Linked DNA regions of Homo sapiens: all the other regions are reported to be linked to region 4. The links are microRNA targets in miRTarBase. Many come from high-throughput screens and were not tested one by one. Region 4 holds a microRNA gene; each other region holds the end of a gene's coding sequence.
What was found. The annotated mature microRNA hsa-miR-7162-3p reads UCUGAGGUGGAACAGCAGC and lies in region 4 at 2,614-2,632, opposite strand. An mRNA with a match to its seed (bases 2 to 7 or 8) in the 3' UTR can be bound and repressed. Matches are read on the target gene's strand: a 7mer-m8 pairs with bases 2 to 8, a 7mer-A1 pairs with bases 2 to 7 and ends in A, and an 8mer does both.

Region 1 (4,000 bases), not on the chromosome of region 4:
CCCTTCCTTAGGGTGGGTATGATTTAGCAGTCAATCCTGATGTTTTCATCACAGAGTCAGAGTGACCTTTGATCAAAACCACATCGCATATATTACTTACATGGTGATGTTTTGTCCTCTCAGATTGCTGGGCCCTTACCAGATGCAGCATATGCTGAACCCTGCATCCCAAAGGCCCTCCACAGGAGCGTGTGTTCAGGATGGAAATGTTTGTTTGCATGACGTGATGGCAACCATGGGTCTTTGGGAATGCAAAAGAAGAGCTCAGGGAAATTGGTTACAAAGGAAATGGTCTTTACCCAGAGCAGCTTTGAGGGCTTCAGGGGAGCAGTGAACTTTGCATACCTGAGCTCTGAGGACGTGCCTGCGTGTGGCTTCTCTCTGTTTTGCCCCGCACCCATTGGAGTTGGCATGTGTCCTTCCATTTTCTTTCCCGTTTATAGGATGGCATAAGGAAAATACACATTTATCTTTAGAAAGGGGCTGTGGTGTGGATTGGATATGTGCAAAGCTGGGTTTCCAAGCTTACAGGCATGAACGAAGTGACTCCAATCACAAATACTCCCTGTCAAGCTGCAAATACATAAACTGTGAGAAAATTAGTCACCTGGGAAAGCTAGATTAACATGCCAACCAGGAAGTAATTTCAAATGCAGTTTAAGGTTTGCATTTATTGACGATACCATTTTGTTTTTAATCGTGTAAATGAGGCCATTTGTTAGTGTTACATGGAGGTTTGGAGGGGATGTCACAGTCCTTCTCTACTTAAGAAGTGTCCTGACCTTTTCTCAGCAACAACTTGATATCAGAAGTTGTGAACTTGGCTGGGCGTGGTGGCTCATACCTGTAATCCCAGCACTTTGGGAGGCCGAGGTGGGCGGATTGGCTGAGCTCAGGAGTTCGCGACCAGCCTGGGCAACACGGTGAAACCCCATCTCTACTAAAATACAAAAAATTAACCGGGCGTGGCGGCATGCACCTGTAGTCCCCGCTACTCGGGAGGCTGAGGTAGGAGAATTGCTTGAACCCGGGAGGCGGAGGTTGCAGTGAGCTGAGATCGCGCTACTGCACTCCAGCCTGGGCGACAGAGTAGGACTGTCTCCCCCCAAAAAAAAAAAAAAGTTGTGAACTTGTGCCTGATTCTGTCTCAGGGTTTGGTATGCCTCTGACTGACTCGCAGGCACTACTTCAGGGGTGATGACTTCTTGAAGGGCTGCTTCGAACCCCACAGCCTTAAGCTCAGCTGACCTTGTTGTTCTACTACCTGTACAAAAAGACAGCCTTTCCCTTTCTAAAGATGTCTCCTAAGTGGGCCAGGATCCACCTGTCATCCAGCTTTATCTCAAAGTAGAGGCACGCTCCAGCCATAATGAGGCATATTCTGTTTTGCCTGTCTTGAATACACAGAGCTGAGATTCACCATTGTTGGTGAGTAGAGATGCACTGAGAGGAGGACTGGGTTTTACCCGATGTTCCAGACCCATCTACGGAGTAGGGAAAGCAGCAGGTAGTCATCACCCACCTTTTGCCTGGGCCCTGCCCCTGCAGCTCTTGAGCACGTCCCCTTGGGCGCCGAGTGCGGTCTTTTCAAAAGGAGCGTGAGAGGAGAGGAGAGGGCGATGGCGCGTGCCCACTGGGTTTTCCTGAAAACACTGCTGCACTGGGGCGCTTTCCATGAGTCATTCCTAGGACAGCCAAGGATACTCTCTGACAGCTCTCTTTAGCCAGTTCCCCAGCTGTTGTAATGGGGTGAGATGCCATTCTCCCTCCCGCTCCTGGACAAAGAGGTCCACATTTTAAATAGTAAAACGGCAAACCTTTAGTTCTTGCTGGTCTTCCTAGCTGTGGCGGGGGGAGTAAATAAGGAACTCTGAAGTGTCCAGTGGCCACCCTGTAAATTCATTTGCAAACAATTCTTAAAGCATTTTTTTTACAGCATAAGAGCATCTTGTGGGCCAAGGAAACTGCAGCTCTTGATTCTACCGTCCAAACCTTTCCCCAGTGGGACTTGATTAACCAGTAGGTGTTACCAACCTGATCCACAGAGACTACCTTGAACTAAGGGTGCTGAGAGGTCTCCGTGGCCACTGGTGACAGATTGATACTCCCGGGCCTCCCCTCAGTGGAGGCGTCTCGCTGTGTGAAGATGCCGTGTTCTCAGATGGGCTCAGCTGTCAGCGTGTGGCCAGCGTTAGGTTGAGCTTCCTGCTGCTTAGAAACCCAAGAGCTCGGCGAGCTGTGTCTGCTGGAGATTGGTGCAGTGAAGCAGCAGGGATCAAGTTAGCCTGGGCAGCTGCTGTGGGATCTGAGTGCAGCATCCCCAGAGGAGCCGCTCCAGCTGCAGATGACATGGGGCCTTGACCTCCGTGCACATCTGGTCCGTCTTCACAAGCCAGAAACAAAACCCAAGTGTATAGCTTGGATGCGGAGGGGTAACAGTTTTGTAGCTGAGATTAATTTTACTCAAGGTTACTTTCTGTAGCCCTTTTTGAAACAAAACATTTCTTCAGTTTGCTTTTTAGCAACAACTCCCGATCTGTAAGGGACCACACTTAAATTAACAAAAGTTAACTGGAAATGGCTTTCCATCTTTATTGACACTCCCTGTCTTTGCACTTAAATTGTACATGCCATTTAAGGAGCCCAACAAGCTTTGGGAACAGTCTCTAACGCATCCCTATTTGCAGCTGGGCGAAGGCCCGCCTGAGCAGGTTAAGTCCCAGGCGGCAATGGTGAGCCAAGCGTGGAACAGCCCAAACTAAAGTCGGGGTCTCTGTGCGGCGGCACGGGCCACTTCGGCACTTCAGTGTTTAAACTTCTGCATGCAGTGTAAAGACAGACAGCTGGCCACAGTGCTGCCCTGCAGTAAAGACCAGCCACCGTGACCGGCTCTCCCCTGCCTCCCTCCTCCCAGCCCACAGTCAGACGGAGCCTCTGTGGCAAGCTCAGGCCCAGTCCAGGGCCCTCAGAGTGTAGATACAGGTGGAGGCCTTTCCAAGTCTTCCAGTTGTCCAGTTAGAGTGGCAGAAAAGTCAGTGGCCATGTTCACCGTGTGCCTCACTCCCTGCAGCCTGGCTGGATGCAGTAAGGCATGGTGGCCTCAACAGCGAGGGAAGGCCTTTATGTTGGGGCCTATGTGGAAACTCTAGCCCCGTGCTTCCATTACATACAAACCGAATATATTAAAGCTTTAGAGTTTTTACAACTATCTATCTTTCCCCTGACATCTCCCCAGCCACCTTAGAGGTGGGAAAGGAAAGGATATAAGAAAACCCCACTAAATGTGGAGTACATTTCATCAAAGTCTGTGTGAGCCAGCTTGCCCCCAGTCACCACGACGTTGACTGCATCTCCCGCCTTCAGGTGCACGATGAGGTGGAATGCCCCCGGGCCCCCGCAGGTATGCAAAGCTCCTGGAGGGCGGTGGTATTCCAGGAACTCTCTCCTGTACCCAGCGGTATGCAGCTGGGCCACGCTGGCGTTGGAGACCGACAGCACTGCTTCCACGTAGGCGTCTCTCTCGGGGGTGAGGGTGGCCGTGATCAGGTAGCGCCCATCATAAGGAGCCGTGAAGACCCCTGCGGGGAGAAAGGCAAACCCTGTGCTCACCTGCTGTCGTCACAGCCCTTGCCATGGTAGTAAGTGGCCCCCCAGTGATTAACCTGGGCCTGGGAGACCAGCCATCTCTGTCTTCCCATGGTAGCTGGCTGCCTGCCTCAGCTGCTTTTTATGCTCATCCCCTACAGCCTACCCGTGATGCAGAGGCCACCTTAGCCCATACCACTTTTTGCCATGGGCCTAAGAATGCCTCTTGGAGGCATTCCTTATTGGAAGCACCTAAAGGCTAAAGTCAGCCTCAAAGCTTGGCTGCTGGGCAGAATACCCGGGAGGCAGGGCCAATAAAAACGAAGCTTGCCACCAACCCAGGGAGAGGCAGACATGGCACCTTGTAACCCCAGGGGCCATGCCAGGCTCCTCGTGGAAGAGGCCCATTCTCCCC
Region 2 (4,000 bases), not on the chromosome of region 4:
GACTCCATGGCATGGAGGTTCACAGCATAGGCTCTGAAAACCAAACAACTCATTCCTTAAACAACCTCAGACAGGTTATATAACTTCTCAGAGCTTCAAGCATCCTTACCTGTATAATGGCAATATTAATAGGATCTATTATGAGAAGTAACTGAGTTCATTCATGTAAAAGACTTAGTGCAAAGTATATAATAAAAATTAACGTTTGAGTATTAAGATTCAAGTCATTTTCATCCTCATCCTAGTGCTTGGAGATTGATTCTTCTATTTCCAATTCTTTAGCGCTCAAGGACGCTTTATAGTCGGGCCTTATCTCTAGAGCTAGATGATTCATATTCATTTCATGGCTTCTTTCAGAAAGTGCAGGTGGTGGTAACTGTTTTGGACTATGACAAGATTGGCAAGAACGATGCCATCGGCAAAGTCTTTGTGGGCTACAACAGCACCGGCGCGGAGCTGCGACACTGGTCAGACATGCTGGCCAACCCCAGGCGACCTATTGCCCAGTGGCACACCCTGCAGGTAGAGGAGGAAGTTGATGCCATGCTGGCCGTCAAGAAGTAAAGGAAAGAAGAAGCCTTTCTGCATTTGCCCATATAGTGCTCTTTAGCCAGTATCTGTAAATACCTCAGTAATATGGGTCCTTTCATTTTTCCAGCCATGCATTCCTAACACAATTCAGTGGTACTTGGAATCCTGTTTTAATTTGCACAAATTTAAATGTAGAGAGCCCCTAAGTCCTTCATCATACCACTGCCCTCCAAATCTACTCTTCTTTTAAGCAATATGATGTGTAGATAGAGCATGAATGAAATTATTTATTGTATCACACTGTTGTATATACCAGTATGCTAAAGATTTATTTCTAGTTTGTGTATTTGTATGTTGTAAGCGTTTCCTAATCTGTGTATATCTAGATGTTTTTAATAAGATGTTCTATTTTAAACTATGTAAATTGACTGAGATATAGGAGAGCTGATAATATATTATACGGTAAATATAGTATCGTCTGCATTCCAGCAAAAATATCAACTCGTAAGGCACTAGTACAGTTAAACTGACATCTTAAAGGACAACTTAAACCTGAGCTTTCTATTGAATCATTTGAGTACCAAGATAAACTTACACCACATACTTGGTGGGTGAATCCAATTTTGTAGAATTCCTACACAGGCAAAATAGCATGATCTGAGCAGCAGCATCCAGGCTGACCTCAAGGAAGCATAGCCACAAAACAGAATAGCACCTGTCTGTACATATTTACAAAGCTAAAATAATGGCTTCACTCTTATATTTGAGGAAGCAACTGAACAGGAGTCAATGATTTCATATTACTGCATATAGAATAACAACAAGGTGTTCCGTGTGTGTGTGTGTGTGTGTGTGTGTGTGTGTGTGCACATTTGTTTGGGGATGGGGGAGAAGAAGCTAAGGGGAGAAGTCAACATTTATGAAATATTGCCTGACTATTTAAAAAGAAAAAAGTAGCTCTCCATTATCACCTTTATACAAAATGTACATCCTGTGAATTCTGTTCCAGATTTCACACCTACAATAATTCCAAAAGGTTTGCACATTAGAGTTTGTAACAAAATATTTTATTATATAAAACCAGGTTAGAAGGAATGCAGGATATTTTTAACACAACAATCTGTGCTTATTACACAAAATTACTTTGTGGTAAACAGACAGTATTGTAATCCCATCAAAAGATGAAAGAAAAACAAAAACAAAAACCAACAACAATTAGCCATAGTTCTGAATGCACTTCAATTAAGCCAAAACAGACAGCTAGTGATCTTTTTATATGCTCTTTTTACTTAAGTTTTAATTTGTCCTTTAAAAAAAGGTGAAACAAACCAAGAACAAGTTCTAGAAAACTGAAGCAACCTCTTATGTATACTAGATGCTTGATTTAGGAGGAGTTTTTAAACGTTTTCAATGTTATTATGTAGTAAATGACACTATTATGAAGCTACTAGTCATTCCATAAGAGTCTTAAAGGACTGCTCTGTGTAACACTGTGACTGCCGTGTGTGCTTAGACCCGTAGTTTCCTCAGTGGATAGCACTCAATTTATTCCGTAGTGATATTGTAACAATACTGCCATTCCCTTCTACTGCACTGCCCAAGGTGTGTGTAGCACAAACAGTTCTCATTACAAAGGACCAATTCAGAACTGAAAAGCTATGCATAGGACAAGGAAGATACATAGAATGGGGTGGAACACAGCATTTTGTCAAGCACTGTGCAATATTCCATATTTTTCCCCACTATGGTAGACAACCATTTCGTGGAAGGGCAGCCTATTATCCCACACTGCATCTAGCCTTTTGTCCCATTCACTTCTGTGATCCATTTTAATTTCCAGGCCACAAGACAGTAGTGATGCTCTGAAATGAAAGTTTGTCTTCACAAATATCAAAACAAAATGGAGGAAAACTAAGCATTGGCCTCATGTTCAGTCTTCAGGATATCACACCACGTCTTTTCAAAAACTAAAGAGAATTCAAAAAGGGCTGATGGTAGGCTTTGAACATGGGGTTGGCTGTTTCCCAGTAAAACTGGAATTCCTGTCGTTACTGTTTCCTTATCAAAGAAGGGGCAAGCTCTTTTGCCTTTTAGGCCAGACATAGCAAACGCTTTATAATTGGCATAGACATAAAGGATAAAAGGAAAATAACCGTCTGCCGATGGTCCGTACTTCTTAAAAAACATAGGTAATAGAAAATATACACAAGTCAGAATGTGAAATTAAATAATGGTTTGAACAGAAAATTCAAACAAGACTCTTTCCAATTTAAAGGGCCAAACCCTACCAAAGAGAGGGAGTTGACTGGCTTTTAAAAAGTATTTAAATACCACAAATGACATTTAATTTCACTGTATTCAGCTTTAAGTTGTTCACAATGAAACCACACTTTCAAACAAGCAGGTTCAAGCTGCTGAATAGACATTATTTCTTGCATTAAAATACCACTAATGCATTCTCTTGCAACACTGCCAGACATGGGATTGTCACCATAGAATTAGTTGGTACTATGCCATCTTTCACTCTTTCACAAGTCAGTGATGGAACCTGCTTTATGACCAAGATTCATCCTCAAATAAGCCACATGTACCCTTCTGACAAAGCTGTGTAAAGTATTAGAATCTGATGCTCTAGAAAGATCCTAGTTGCCTTTGTGTATATTTACTGCCTGCTTGAGTGTTTCTATGTGTGGGTTTTCCCTGTATCTTGTAGAAATGTTGGGGTGTTTTCCTCTGCCATATGGCTCGTGGCCTGCGAGCCAACTATTTCAGCTGTATTTTACCTTCATTTTTGATGAGGTGATTTAAATTTTGTTTCACTTTGTGTAGTGAATTCCACAGTAGTTTTCTGATTGTTGTTAAAAATGACTTAACATATTACACAGATATTCAATAAAAATGTTTTATTTCCTGTTGATGTTGCTGCGTTCCCACTCTTTTCCTTGCCTGACTCTGGTGGTAAGCCAATGGCCTATTGACTTTGGGGGACTCCTGGAAGCAGCAGCAGCTAAACAAAACTGCACTGAATGCCAGCATCTGAGTCACATCTGAGTACAGAATAGCTAGAGGGAAAACAACACCCGGGAGCATTTGGCCATGACCGCGTGGTGTTCCTGGGCAGTGTCATTCTCAACATGTGTTTCTCTATTCCTGTGTGTCATCAGTTCATCTGGCGTACTCTGAGGCTTTTCACTTTGCCCAGCATGTGTCCTTCAGGGTTTTCACTCCAGAACCCAAGTCACACAGCTTCTCCAGAATGGGACGGAAAACAAAACTATTTAAACCCCAGTTTCAGAGGACAGTATGACACATTAAATTCTATGCCTACTACGATCGCTATGGGAAACAAGTAAATACTTTTCCTCCACTAAATTTAACATTTATCAAGTGCCTACTGTACTGGACGCTGAAGCCCACAGTTTCAGGCTGATGTAAATACGCTATCCCAATGCACTGTGATGTGGGCTTA
Region 3 (4,000 bases), not on the chromosome of region 4:
AACCTGTGGCTATGTTACCATAGTTGGCAAAAGGGCCCTTCAGATGGAGAGATGATCCTGGATTATCCGGGTGGGCCCAGACTAATCACACAAGTTCTCAGCAGCAGCAGAGAACCTTTCCTTGGGTCAGAAAGAGATGTGATGATGGAAGAAGGGTCAGATACGATGCTGCTGGCACTGAAGGTGGAGGAAGGGGCCACAAGCCAAGGAACAGGGGCAACCTCTAGAAACCAGAAAGGGCAAGGAAATGGCTTCTCCCCGGAGCCTTTAGAAGAGAACACAGCCCTGTCAACACCTTGATTTTAGCCCAGTGAGACCCATGTCAGACTTCTGACTATGGAACTGTAAGATAAGAAATTTGTCTTTTAAGCAGCTACTTTTGTGGTGATTTGTTATGGCAGCAATAGAAAACCAATGCACTCTCATGTGCTTTTACACACCCTATGGTCTGAGAGCCTCTGCCCCATAAATCCACTCAACTACGTGGGTTTCACATGCCATGTGGCCTTTAACCAATAACCTCCTCATTCTGGCTGCCGTTACCACCTGCCTGATTCCCTAGTTCAAATTCTGAAGAGAGAATGGACGAACAGATGAATACACAAGTCTGACTGGCCTAGCTCAATGCTTTTCACTCCAGGACAATCCATAGGATTGGCTGTACTAGGAGCAGATGCCAGTCCTCCTTTGTACCAGACTCCCAAGACAAAGTACATGGCTGTATAGGAGAGAGAGGTCAGAGAAGACCTGGCGGAAAAGGCTGTGGGGTTGAGACCTAAGGATGGGCATGGGTTTGCCAGGACATGAAGGGTGCAGGGAGAATTCCAGGCACTTAAGAGAGCAGGCCCTTTGGGGGCAGGCAGGAAGCAGCATGGTATTGCTGGACTAAAACCTGTGGCAGGGGCAGGGGCTGCCCAGGGGAGGCAACCAAGTCTCTGAGGGTTTTGTCTGCCAGGCTGAGGGGCTGCCCTTCCTGTGTGGGCTGGAAAGCCAGGGAGAGGTGAAGACTGGCAGTGCTTTGGAGGCCGACTGGAGAGCTCTGAAGCTGGGCAATAGGAGACACTTGTCCCCACTTCCTTGGCTCTGAATTCCCTGAAGCCAAAGTCTGGATTGACTTCAAGGCTTGGCTGGAAAAAGCAGGAAAAGGGAGAAAGGAAGGAGAGAAGGTTCCAGAGGAGGAAAGGAAGCGTTGATGCACAGAAGACACAATTGGGCCAGGAATTTTTATTGTGAGAACGTTCTTTTGAAAAGGATCCTTTTTTCAAAGGCCTCTTGTGTTTGGCAGCCCTTAGAAAGCAAATTCTGAGAATTATTTTAGCCTGATTAAGCTCGCTGGTATCTCAAAATACTGAAATTATAAATACGTAATTACAAACAATGCCAAACTGCAAAATATGCATAAGAAAAGTCCCACAAAGTTGTGATTTTGCTACTTTTTCAATTCCAAATTCTTTCCCTAGGAAGTTTGATGCTGAGCCTGGCCTGTCTGTGGTGGGGAAGGAGGCCTGGGCCACAGCCACTGGACCTGTCTCTGGGATCTGGACCTGATGCCCAGCGAGTAGCCCGCAGGTTGCGTCCCCCACTGGAACACCCCTGGGAACCTGGGTGGGAGCGGCAGGTACAGGGGCCAGTGCAGAGTCAGGGCTTGGCCCATCAGGCCTGGGCCAGCACAGTGAGGCACATTCATTCATACACAGGAGTTGGATTTGCATTCTGAAAAGGTAGCACACATGACAGACCCGTGGGCAACCTGGCAGTGGCTGGGAAACCTGGCAGTGGCCATGCCACAGAGGGAGACCCAGGCTGCAGCTGCTGAAAGGGACTCACGCCCCTCCCAGCTGTGCCAACTGAGGCCCCTCAGGCTGCTGTGTACCAGTTAGTTAAGACACTGGAAGGCCAGGTGTGGTGGCTCACGCCTGTAACCCCCAGCATTTGGGAGGCCAAGGTGGGAGGATCACGAGGTCAAGAGATCGAGACCATCCTGCCAACATGGTGAAACCCCATCTCTACTAAAAATATAAAAATTAGCTGGGTGTGGTGGCACACGCCTGTAGTCCCAGCTACTCGAGAGGCTGAGGCAGGAGAATCACTTGAACCCAGGAGGCAGAGGTTGCAGTGAGCTGAGATCGTGCCACCGCACTCCAGCCTGGTTGACAGAGCAAGACTCTGTCTCAAAAAAAAAAACAAAAAAACTGAAGTAGGAAGATTTCTGTTCTATATCAATCAGGACTTTCTTTGTAAACGAGGTGCGTTCCTTTTGTTCTGTGGAGACCCAGGAGTAATATCACCAGAGTGAGGGTGATGAGGTTAGTAGGGATGCTCGCAGTCTGAGAAATGAACGGACTGCTTTGCATCAGTCCCTTCCCCTTCCCTGATTTTAAAAATTTAATTTTAAGGAGAAAATACTTCAGCATGAGACTTCAGTTCCTGAGGAAAATAACACTATTGCTCCATCCTTAGTATTCACTTAAACAAATGTTTAGCTAAAATTTTATTAAAAACTTTCAGCCCACCCGGACACGGAAGACTTTGCTTTTACAGCAGCTAAGGTATGTTTTCATTACCCCGTGAGTGATGCTAATGCATTGCAAATAGTTATTATGAGTTTATGTAGTGCTTGGTGCCTAAAATAAATTTCATTTAAATATTTAAAATAACTCCTGAATATAAGCAATTTATTCTGATTACTGATAAAATAACATTCACATTCAAGCCTACAAATCTGAGAAATCATTATTCCATATGCACAGAAGGCCACAGTCAGTAGTCTAATAGTACTGCTTACCAGTGTAGTGTAAACTTCTTTCAGAATCAGGGAACAATTCTAGATCAGCCATGGTGAGAAATAAGTGCTCTTCTCTTAGGCCAGCGACACTTCCGATGGGTCTTGACATCCCACCTATGGGCTGGTGTGTGAAACTCTCATCTCTACGTCCCTCCCCAGTTTTAAGAGTCACCATGTCACATAAAAGCTCCAGCATCAGCCAGGCACGGTGGCTCATGCCTATAATCCCAACACTTTGGGTGGCCAAGGCAGGTGGATCACGAGGTCAGGAGTTCAAGACCAGCCTGGCCAACATAGCGAAACCTTGTCTCTACTTAAATATACAAAAATTAGCCAGGCGTGGTGGTGCATGCCTGTAATCCCAGCTACTCGGGAGGCTGAGACAGAGAATTGCTTGAACCTGGGAGGTGGAGGTTGCAGTAAGCCAAGATCGTGCCACTGCACTCTAGCCTGGATGACAGAGAGATTCTGTCTCAAAAGAAAGAAAAAAAAAAGGCTGGGCGTGGTGGCTCACACCTGTAATCCCAGCACTTTGGGAGTCTGAGGCAGGCGGATCACGAGGTCAGAAGATCGAGACCATCCTGGCTAACACGGTGAAACCTCGTCTCTACTAAAAAATACAAAAAATTAGTTGGGCAAGGTGGTGGCGCCTGTAGTCCCAGCTACTCGGGAGGCTGAGGCAGGAGAATGGCGTGAACCCAGGAGGCGGAGCTTGCAGTGAGCCAAGATCGCACCACTGCACCCCAGCCTGGGAAGCGGAGCTTGCGGTGAGCCGAGATGGCGCCACTGCACCCCAGCCTGGGCGACAGAGTGAGACTCCATCTCAAAAAAGAAAAAAAAAAAAAATGCTGCAGCAGCCTACACAAGGCCCTGCTGATCTTCCGGGGTGTTATGTGGCCCATCTATCAGCACCCTGTTAGTATGCTTTTCGATAGGTCTAAGACTCACCCACTTTATTCAAGCCTACTGTGGCAGGTGCCTTTGTCAAACTTGAGCCTAACCATCCCACTGGCCAGGGTCCTGCTCATCACTGTCCTCCTCAGAGTCAGCAGACACCCTCTTGATTCTCTGGAGCGCAGCCTTGATGCTCCTCTCAAGGTCACTGGTGCGTCTGTTGCTGGTTGGTTTGCTGCTGGGGTTTGGGCCAAGATCAGGGTGAACTTTCTTCAGTTTGACCCCTTGCCTTATGGCAGCCAGAATGTGCTCATTGATTGA
Region 4 (4,145 bases):
CTGCCTTCATCCTCACTGTGTAACCCTGAGCCAGCCCCTCCCCAGAGGGGAATGAGCTGCTGTTCTTTATCTTTACTTTCAAGAACCAAGATCTTGCTATATTGCCCAGGCACAGTCCCACTACCAGTCGGTGCAGGAGTTCTGACCTACTCCCTTTCTGACCTGGGCCAGTTCACCCATCCTTAGGCAACCTGTTGGCCCCCTAGCCCAGGAGGTCACCATATTGATGCCAAACTTAGTGCAGACACCCGGTCAGCATAATGACCAGCTGTTCTAAAGGTCTCTTCCAACTCCTCAATCCTACGCTGCTAACAGTCCCCCTTTCCTTCTGGGGCTCTCTCCTCCTCCTCTGAGAGATCTCCTGTACCTTGCCTAGGGAGTGCCATGAGGCTCAACTGGGCCTGTAGCTGCTGGTTCTGCTGGCTGGTACCTTCCAGGTGCTCCTAAGGGGCCAGGAAAGAGAGTGAGAAGGCACGGAGGTTGCCAGGTCATCCCCCTCAAGGCCCCGTCCTCAGCAATTCCCTCCCCTGGGTCTCCTGCAACTTTTGGTGGGCCATCTCTGCCACCACTTTGCCCCAAGCTTCCTGCTGCTGCAGCTGGTCCATGAGCTGGGTCTGCAGCAGTAACTGCCTGTGCTGCGCCTCCTTCTCAGAGGTCAGCTGCTGATAGGCAGCCACGTACTGCTGCAGGTGACCCAGGGACTGGTGTCCCTGCTGCTGCAGACTCTGAGCCTCTTGGCTCTTCAGCTTCACCTGCAGGAAGACCCTGGGCATGAGGGCACATGGTGGCTGGCTTCCAGATTCTGGGCCCATTAATAGGGTATTGAGGGCACTGTGGGGCTCTGTTGCCCGCCCAGGCCCCTGGCCCCTTGCTCCAGGCCTAAGTGACTGCCTCCCTTTCCTAGAACCCCATGCCTTCTTCCCCAGCCTCAAATCTTACACCTTTCTTCCCACCATTTAAACTGTAGGCCACAGGCTGGTGGAAAAGCAGAGGGAGCCAACCACCATCTGCTAAGTGTGCTATATGACTAATACTTTCCATGTATTATCTCATTTAATCCTCAGCACCTCTGCAAGGAAAATGCTAACTTCCTTTTGAAGTTAAAGGAACAGAGACTTAGAGATGCAAAGTGGTTGAATGGCGACCAGTGGAACTGAGGCTGGAATCTAGTTTGAATCTAAGGAGACTTTTTTGTTTTTGTTTTGTTTTGTTTCGTTTTGCGACAGAGTGTCACTCTGTGGCCCAGACTAGAGTGCAGTGGTGCAATGTCAGCTCACTGCAACCTCCACCTCCCAGGCTCAAGCGATTCTCATGCCTCAACTTCCTGAGTAGTTGGGATTACAGGCATGCGCCACCATGCCCGGCTAGTGTGTGTGTGTGTGTGTGTGTGTGTGTGTGTGTGTGTGTGTGTGTGTGTGTGTGTGATATTGGTAGAGATGAGGTTTTGCCATGTTATCCAGACTGGTCTCAAACTCCAGACCCCAAGTGATTCTCCTGCCTCAGCCTCCCAAAGTGCTGGGATTACAGGCGTGAGCCACCATGCCTGACATAAGGAGCCTCTTATACCACGACTCCTCCCCTGTGATTGGGGGGCTCCATGCCTCTAGCTGGGATGATGATGTCCACACCTGGGAGGAGCCCAGGGCTACCCACCTCTAAAAGTCAGAGGGCAGGAAGCAAGAAACAGTCACAGGACTGCCCTGGAGGGAGCTGGGGTCACCTGCCCCCGGGCTGGAGCTGCTTTTGGCCTCACACCTCCCCTCCCCAGAGGCTGGTGCTCACCTCCCAGCCCTTCTTGGATGGGCAGAGGTTACAGTCTCCTTCAGCTTGCCCAGCTTCTCCTGCAGCTCCTTTACTTGCTGCTCCAACTGTAGTGCACTCTTATTCTCGTTGTTCTGGACAGAGAGAAGCAATCAGTGGCCACCCACTGCAGCTGGAGACCCCAGAACTTGGTGTCTGCCTCCCATGGCACCAGGAAGGGTGGAGGCAGGTTAGAAAAATTATCCCCTCTCTCCCACAGCCATCAGAGCAGGGCTCTGGCTCACAGGTGCCTTTAGAAGTACCATTTCACGTGAGGGCTACACTGCCCCATCTTACAGGTGGGGAATCAAAGGCCTGGAGGGCAAGGGAGGAGGGCAGGCTCACGAGGCGGGGCAACGCACCAGCTCCTCTAAGCCGCTCTGTGGCCCAGCCAGCTGCTAGTCGAGCTCATGGTTCTGAGAGAGCACGTGGTTGATGGTGGTGTGGTTCCGCAGGGCCTGCATGCACGTCTCTGCCTGCTCCTCCCAGAGCTTGGCTTTCCGCCCCAGCTCGAGCAGCCTGTCCTCCTGCTCCGCAGCCTCTCCTCCCACTCCCGTAGCCTCTCCTCCCGCTCCCGCAGACTCTCCTCCCGCTCCCGCAGACTCTCCTCCCGCTCTCCCAGCCTCTCCTACTCCTGCAGCTTCTCCTCCAGCTCCTGCAGCCTCTCCTGCTCCCGCAGCGTCTCCCGTTCCAGCAGCCTCTCCTCCTGCTCCCAGTTCAGGTGACTCAAGCCTTGATTGTTTTGCACCTGAGCTTGGAGCTGTCCTGCCAGACTCTCCTGCTCCTTCCTCGGGTGCTCGGCCTCAGCTTGTAGCTGCTGTTCCACCTCAGAGGGCCCTGCTGGGGGCTCCAGGGGCAGGGGTTCAGCTGAGAAAGGAAGCAGACAACAAGGGCCTCTGGGTTAACAAAACAAAACAAAACAAAACAACAAATAAAAGCCCTTCTCTTGGTGCACAGATCCTCTCAGGCTCCCCAAACTTGGCCTCACTGCTAACGATTCCTCGCTCTCGGATGGTAGCCAATCTTCCAAGCCACTTTCAGATAGAGAGCACTGTGGGTGGCTGACAATGAGCACTCCTCCCTCTTTGTTGATGGCGACACTGAGGTTCATGGAGATTATAAGACTTGCCGTCTCCTGGCACAGACCTCTTTCCCTCTGCCTCAAAGCCCTTCCATCTACCCACCTCCCTGGGGCATTCTAAGCCATCCCCACAGCCCTCTGATGCCAGTCCTGCTCCCAGGCCATGCCAGCCCCATCTTACCCATCTAGTTTTTGAGTTCGGCCAAGCTCCTCTCCAGCTCCTGTACCCGATGCCTGTCATGCTTCTTCTCCTCCTTCCATGTGCAAACCTGCCCAAAGCACGGGGGACAGGGCCCTGGAGAGAGGGGCTGGTGGTTGGACAGGCTACCAACTCCCTCTCTGCCTCCACCTCTACAAAGCCCAGACCCATGACCACCTCTGGCTGTACTATTCCCATTTTACAGATGGCCAGAAAGATCCAGTGACCTATCTAAAGTGGGGGGCTTAAGGGTCAGGTCTCACCTCCTCTGACATTTTCCATACCCTCTGCTGCCACCGGGCCCTCTCTCCTTTTAGATGTTGAGTATATTCATCTGTCTCTAGCTGGACTTGTTCCAACATCTGCAAGAATGGGCACAGAAGTTAGGAAAGGCTGTCACTGGTCCTCACCTGCTCCTGGCCACCTGGCGTCATCTTCCTCCCACATCCCTCCCTCTACAAAGCTTCACCTGTGTCACGTGTGCTTCCAGCTGTGCCCGAGCCTTTATGGACTGCCATAACTGCCGCTTGAGGACTGCTTCACAGCGGCTCGAGGACTGTATGGTGAAGAGTGAGAAGTTTCGATCTGGGGAGCCTGGGCCGTTCCACACAGTGCCCCTTAAAAGGGCTAGGGTTAGGCTCAATATACAACTTGGTCAGTAAAGGTCAAGGCATTTCTAAGCCTGTGGTCTGGTTTTTAAAAGAACTCAGTAAAGTTGGAAGGGACAGGGAAAAAGATCGAATTTACAGCTGGCTAACAGAGGCCCAGAGAGATCAGATAATATTGCTGTTGTTATTACTGTTATTACTACCACTGTTTGAATGTTTATTGAGTGCTTCGCCAGTTACCATGCTAACGATCCCACTGAATCCTCATAACCACCATATGAGACAGTTACTATGATTACCTCTATTATTAGTATTAGAGTTACTATTAGAGTATTAGAGTTTCTATTATTAGTATTAGAGGTTAAGTGCTTGCCTAAGGTCACTTAGACAGAGCTGGGATTTGAATACCCAGGTCTATCCTATTCTCTAAGCCCATTTTTCTTGCTGGGGGTTGGGG

Region 1: miRTarBase lists EMILIN2 as a target of hsa-miR-7162-3p. Seed matches in the 3' UTR shown: 7mer-m8 at 1,004-1,010.
Region 2: the mRNA of SYT1 is a reported target of hsa-miR-7162-3p. Seed matches in the 3' UTR shown: 7mer-m8 at 626-632.
Region 3: miRTarBase lists WHAMM as a target of hsa-miR-7162-3p. Seed matches in the 3' UTR shown: 7mer-A1 at 3,325-3,331.

The regions. Positions count from the first base shown.
Region 1 is chr18:2,912,645-2,916,644 of GRCh38, reverse strand. It overlaps EMILIN2 (elastin microfibril interfacer 2), which reads right to left. Exons shown (of 8, transcript NM_032048.3): 8 at 642-3,578. The coding sequence ends at 3,241. Among named protein-coding and RNA genes, the nearest start is that of LPIN2-AS2, 52 kb to the left of the region's middle.
Region 2 is chr12:79,448,561-79,452,560 of GRCh38, forward strand. It overlaps SYT1 (synaptotagmin 1), which reads left to right. Exons shown (of 11, transcript NM_005639.3): 11 at 358-3,448. The coding sequence ends at 564. Among named protein-coding and RNA genes, the nearest start is that of MIR1252, 31 kb to the left of the region's middle.
Region 3 is chr15:82,833,318-82,837,317 of GRCh38, reverse strand. WHAMM (WASP homolog associated with actin, golgi membranes and microtubules) reads right to left here. Exons shown (of 10, transcript NM_001080435.3): 10 at 1,210-4,000. The coding sequence ends at 3,782. It also overlaps a transcript of HOMER2 not described here. Among named protein-coding and RNA genes, the nearest start is that of WHAMM, 26 kb to the right of the region's middle. RefSeq lists an enhancer at 3,833-4,000.
Region 4 is chr10:30,365,984-30,370,128 of GRCh38, forward strand. It overlaps MIR7162 (microRNA 7162), which reads right to left and starts at 2,682; the gene lies at 2,614-2,682. It also overlaps the pseudogene GOLGA2P6 and the pseudogene RN7SL241P.